2 separate regions of the Homo sapiens genome follow, and region 1 is linked to region 2. The links come from fine-mapping of genetic effects on gene expression. A gene starts in region 2. The other region holds a variant in brackets. All regions are shown on one strand. Distances are from middle to middle. Region 1 holds the start of RAB11FIP3 (RAB11 family interacting protein 3). Region 2 holds the start of DECR2 (2,4-dienoyl-CoA reductase 2).

Region 1 (2,700 bases), 23 kb after region 2:
GGTGGGAGGATCTCTTGAGCCTAGGAGGTTGAGGCTGCCGTGAGCTATGGTCGCACCACTGCACTGCAGCCTGGGCAACAGAGCAAAACCCTGTCTCGGGGAAAAAAAAGAAAAGAAAAGAAAAGAAGGAACTGCTACAGCCCACAGCCTACAAAGGGGACACAGATAGTAGCTCTGAACAGCAGACGGATAGACGGGAACTTGTCCCTTTAGTCTTTCATGAACAGCCTCTAACTGGTCCAGGCAGGGAGGTGCAGGCTTCCAGGCTGTGGTTCCATGGAGGACACCAGCCGGGCACGCAATGGACGTTTTCCAGCCCTAGCACAGACAGAGCGTGCGGGCCCCTGCTCTCAGAAAGCCAGCCTTCTGCCTCTGGCAGCGCCGGCACATAAAAGCAGAGGGAGCCTGCTGTCTCTGCCTCGCCCACACTAACACCCCTATTTAGAAAGGTTGACACATCACTATCACTGCTTCTGAAAATTTTATCCGGCCGAAGGCATCAGCCCAAATTTGAATTCTTGCCAAAGCTGCTGGTGATTTCGTTCTTTGAATGCAGTATCTTCCTCATGAACACGTACAGCTCTTACAAGAAAATGAGAATACGGTTTGGGGAGGAGGATCCCTCACATTCCTTTTCCTAATGCCAGCCTCGCGAAGTCTGGTCCCATGTACCCTGGGATTCTGCCACGGAAGATGACTCACTTAATTAACACGCTGCTCCTGACCGTACACTTGGAAGCAGAGGTTCCGTTCCTTTGGTTCTTGCCAAAGCTGCTTACGAAACCATATCTTGTGTTGGTGCCCATGGTGTGTAAAAATACAAGTTCATCATTTCCCTGATACAAATTATGACAGGCTAAATTTAGTGCCTCACCTGTCCTAACTAGCTTTCCCACCATCATGCCTGCCGCCGGGCTGTGGTCCTTTCTGAGGTCCCGTGTCCCTCTGAGGACAGGGACACCCAGACACAGAGGTCAGTTGTCAGACGCGGCCACGGTGCTCGGGAGGCTGGCTGCAGACGGGCGATTCACCCTGGGTGTCTTCTTGAGTCTTATTTTTTGTAGAGACGAGGTCTCGCTTTGGTGCTCAGGCTGGTCTCAATCTCCTGGGCGCAAGCGATCCTCCCGCTTGGGCGTGGGCCAGCGCGCCCGTCCCAACGCTGGGAGTCCCGGAGATCTTGGTCACAGGCTTAAGGGAAAGGCCTAGCGCGTGGCCGCGCGTGCCTCTGGTTTCAAGGGACATGGACTGCGTGTCTGGGGCCCCTCCGCACTCCGTGTCAGACCCTGCGTCCCCCGGGTCCGCGCGGGACCCGGGCAGGGCGTCGCCCTCTGCGGCGTCTGCGCCCCGCGAACCCTGGGGCACCTGCAACCCCTGGGCCGCGGAGCCAGGCGTGCGCCGCCTCCTGGTCTCATCAACGTGAGAACGCTTTACCCCCGAAGAGCTCAGCTCCTAGGGGGCTATGTCCCTTTGCGTCTCTCGCTCGCCAGGCGGTGCCGTTTACTCGACCGCACCATGCGTGGGTAGCGGTCGCGCCCGCTGGTAGCTGTGCGGCGGGAACACGTTCTAAGTAAGGCCTGACTCCGCGCGCCTCTTGCCAGGGACGTCACGTCACGCCTCCACTCGCAGCCTCGGAGCACCCCCGCGTCCC[G/A]CGCCCGAAGCTCGGGACCCCCGCTCTGGCGAAACGAGGAATATGACATACAGCAAAACACCCCTTCGCGGCCGCTGCACTGCCGCGACACACCCGGCGCCTGCCTCTACAGCAAGCCGGCGAGGGGCTGGGACCCCGCCGGGACGTGCTGACGTCAGGCCCGACGGGGGGCGGGGCCTGGGCGGCGGCGGCGTTAGTTCTCCGGGTACCTCAGGCGCCTCAGCCTCCTTAGTCTCCTCATCCTGCTTCACAGGCTCCGCGGCCTCCGGCCTCCTCGGCCCCCGTCCCCCGGCCTCCTCGGCCCCCGTCCCCCGCCATCCGCCGCCCGGATCCTCGCCGCCCTCCCTAGGCCGCCCCGCCGCCATGGGCCTGCGCCCGCCGCGCCGCCGGGCCGAGGGCAGCTGAGGCGCGGTGCGAAGATGGGCGAGGACAGAGCAGGGCCCGAGCGCCAGCCCCAGCAGCCCGGGCGCCCCGCGCGCGCCCGCCCGCGCCGCCGAGGGGATGCCCGCGCCCGCCGCCGCGCCCTGAGCGCCTTTGTCTGCCGCCCGCGCCCTTCCGCACCACTAGCCTCTCGGGAGCATGGCGTCGGCCCCGCCGGCCTCGCCCCCGGGCTCGGAGCCGCCGGGGCCCGACCCGGAGCCGGGCGGGCCGGACGGGCCGGGGGCGGCACAACTGGCTCCGGGCCCTGCGGAGCTACGCCTCGGAGCGCCCGTCGGCGGCCCCGACCCGCAGTCCCCGGGCCTGGATGAGCCTGCGCCCGGGGCCGCTGCAGATGGCGGGGCGCGTTGGAGCGCCGGGCCGGCCCCGGGGCTGGAGGGAGGCCCGCGAGACCCCGGGCCGTCCGCCCCGCCGCCGCGCTCCGGCCCGCGGGGGCAGCTTGCGAGCCCCGACGCCCCGGGCCCAGGGCCGCGCTCCGAAGCGCCGCTTCCAGAACTCGACCCGTTGTTCTCCTGGACTGAGGAGCCCGAGGAGTGTGGCCCCGCGAGCTGCCCGGAGAGCGCGCCTTTCCGCTTGCAGGGGTCCAGCAGCAGCCACCGAGCGCGGGGCGAGGT
Region 2 (2,726 bases):
GGAGAACCCAAGCTAGGCGCGAGCCGGTGCTGTGATCCCGCCAAAGGAGAAGCTGCCTTCCCGGGGAAGGGGCAGAGAGGGGCCGGCGGGCTGAGGCCAACCAGCGCAGAAAGGGCCTGGCAGCCATTACTGTAGCGCTGGCGGCTCTGTCACGCCCCTGAAGCCGCTGGCCCGCGGGTGTGTTCAGCTCAGGAGCGGCCCTGCGTGTTTTTCCCCCGTGGCCGTCGCGGACCCCCGTCTTCCAACAGTGGTGCGGGCGGGGCGCCCCGTCCTGGGTTCGCGGCATAGCCCCGCCCGGGCCCCCACGCGGAACAGAAGTAACGGACCCTTTTTTTTTTGTTTTTGTTTTTGAAACGGAGTGTCGCTCTGTCGCCCAGGATAGAGTGCAGTGGCGCGATCTCGGCTCACTGCAACCTCCGCCTCCCGGGTTCAAGCGATTCTCCTGCCTCAGCCTCCCGAGTAGATGGAACTACAGGCACCCGCCACAATGCCCGGCTAATTTTTGTATTTTTAGTAAAGAGGGGGTTTCGCCATGTTGTCCAGGATGGTCTCGAACTCCTGACCTCGTGATCCGCCCGCCTCGGCCTCCCAAAGTGTTGGGATTACAGGCGTGAGCCACCGCGCCCGGCCCCGGACCCTTCTTTATTGGCCTCAAAACGGGTCATTTTGGGAAGCGGCGCGGGGCTGGCCGCGCTTCCCTGGGCCCCGGCCCTCCCCATGGTGTTTACGGGGAGGCGAACGGGGAGCCCAGAGGCTGCGAGCCTGGCCTGGACCCAGGAGCCAGGGGTATCCCACAAGTCCTGGAGGCTCTGAACGCGGCGCTGACGCCGAATACCTGTGAAAAAGACTCGGGGAGGAGACCCGCAGACCGCCGAGCTTCTGCCGCGGGAACCGCGCCCCCGGCCCCGCAATGCGCCTGCGCCTCGCGCGCCGACTTCCAGTCCCAGCAGGCCGCGGGCGGGGGCGGGGCCTCCGGGGAGAATTCGGGGGAGGGGCGGGGCCTCCGGGAAGCAATCAGGGCAGGGGCGGGGCGTCCGGGGAGTGGGGCGGGGCTCCCGGTTCCAGGCGAGTTCGCAGCTGCGCGCCGGGTCCTGGAGGCCGAGGCCGCTCCCGCCCGTTGTCCCCGCAGTCCCCGACGGGAGCGCCATGGCCCAGCCGCCGCCCGACGTGGAGGGGGACGACTGTCTCCCCGCGTACCGCCACCTCTTCTGCCCGGACCTGCTGCGGTGAGCGGGGCCTGGGAAGCGAGCGCAGCCTTGGTGCGGGGTCCGGTCCGCGGGCGCCGGCGCCCCCACGTGGTCCCCGAGGGCTCGCGTGTTAGGAAACCTGTCTTGCCTGGCTCCTTTCTTTCTTTTTTCTTTCTTTTTTTTTTTTTGAGACGGAATCTCGCTGTGTCGCCCAGGCTGGAGTGCAGTGGCACGATCTCCGCTCACTGCAAACTCTGCCTCCCGGGTTCAAGCGATTCTCCTGCCTCAGCCCGGCTAATTTTTATTTTTAGTAGAGAGGGGGTGTCACCGTGTTGGTCAGGCTCTTTTCGAACTCCTGACCTCAGGTGATCCACCCGCCTCGGCTTCCCAAAGTGCTGGGATTTACAGGCGTGAGCCACCGCGCCCGGCCCAACCTGGCCTCTTTCTTAACAGAAAATTTTAGGTTGAAATCATTTTTCCGGAAGACCCAGAAGGCCCAGGAATGCCAGGTTTTGCCCAGCAGCTCTTCATTTTCCTGCAAACGCCTTGGTGTTCACAAGAGAAGGCAGCCCGGGCAAAGGTCGATCCTCCCCGGTCACCTGCCCTCACTCGGCTAATGGGCGGATCCTTTTTTTTTTTTCCTTTTCTTTTTTTCAATTGGCAACATTTTCAAGTTTCTATTAAAATTTTGATCTTTTGCCAGGAGCAGTGGCTCACGCCTGTAATCCCAGCTCTTTGGGAGGCCGAAGCGGGTAGATCACCAGAGGTCAGGAGTTCGAGACCAGCCTGGCCAACATGGTGAAACCCCGTCTCTGCTAAAAATACAAAAAATTAGCCGGGTGTGGTGGCGCACACCTGTAATCCCAACTACTTGGGAGGCTGAGGCAGGAGAATCACTTGAACTCGGGAGGTGGAGGTTGCAGTGAGCCGAGATCGCACCATTGCACTGGGCAACAAGAGTGAAACTCCATCTCAAAAAAAGAAAACAAGTTTTAAATTATGTTCTCCAAGGACAGGTATTGACAATTCTCTCTGAGTGTTCTGCAGGAAAAAAAAAAAGTTTTTTTTCGAAACGGAGTCTCATTCTGGGTTGAAGCAATTCTCCTGCCTCAGCCTCCCAATTCTCCTGCTTCAGCCTCAGTGCGCCCAAGTGGGACTATAGGCACACAATACCACGCTGGGCTAATTGTATTTCTAGTAGAGGTGAGTGTCACCATGTTGGTCAGGCTGGTCTGGAACTCCTGACCTCAGATGATCCACCTGCCTCGGCCTCCCAAAGTGCTGGGATGACAGGAGTGAGACGCTGCACCTGGCCCAAAATTAATCTTTAATAATTAAGAATAGGAAAGGCAACTTGGAGATCAGCAAAAGTTTGCCATCCATCTGGTACAGTTTGTGCCAGTCATACCGATCAGTACACATTTAATGCGTACAAGAAAATCTCTAATAAATAAAAAAGCCATATTATCCCGACGTAGCTTGCTGAATCTCAGGTATCATATTTGATATTAGTGCCATGCAGGGCTTAGGAGAGAGGAA

What was found.
Region 1: its variant is fine-mapped to the expression of DECR2 in lung (TOPMed, PIP above 0.99). The same link has a PIP of 0.9 or more in breast.

Annotation. Positions count from the first base shown.
Region 1 is chr16:423,780-426,479 of GRCh38, forward strand. It overlaps RAB11FIP3 (RAB11 family interacting protein 3), which reads left to right and starts at 1,870. Exons shown (of 14, transcript NM_014700.4): 1 at 1,870-2,700. The coding sequence starts at 2,228. The variant G/A (reference allele first, on the strand shown) is at 1,649.
Region 2 is chr16:400,818-403,543 of GRCh38, forward strand. It overlaps DECR2 (2,4-dienoyl-CoA reductase 2), which reads left to right and starts at 1,068. Exons shown (of 9, transcript NM_020664.4): 1 at 1,068-1,226. The coding sequence starts at 1,147. RefSeq lists enhancers at 1-200, 48-633.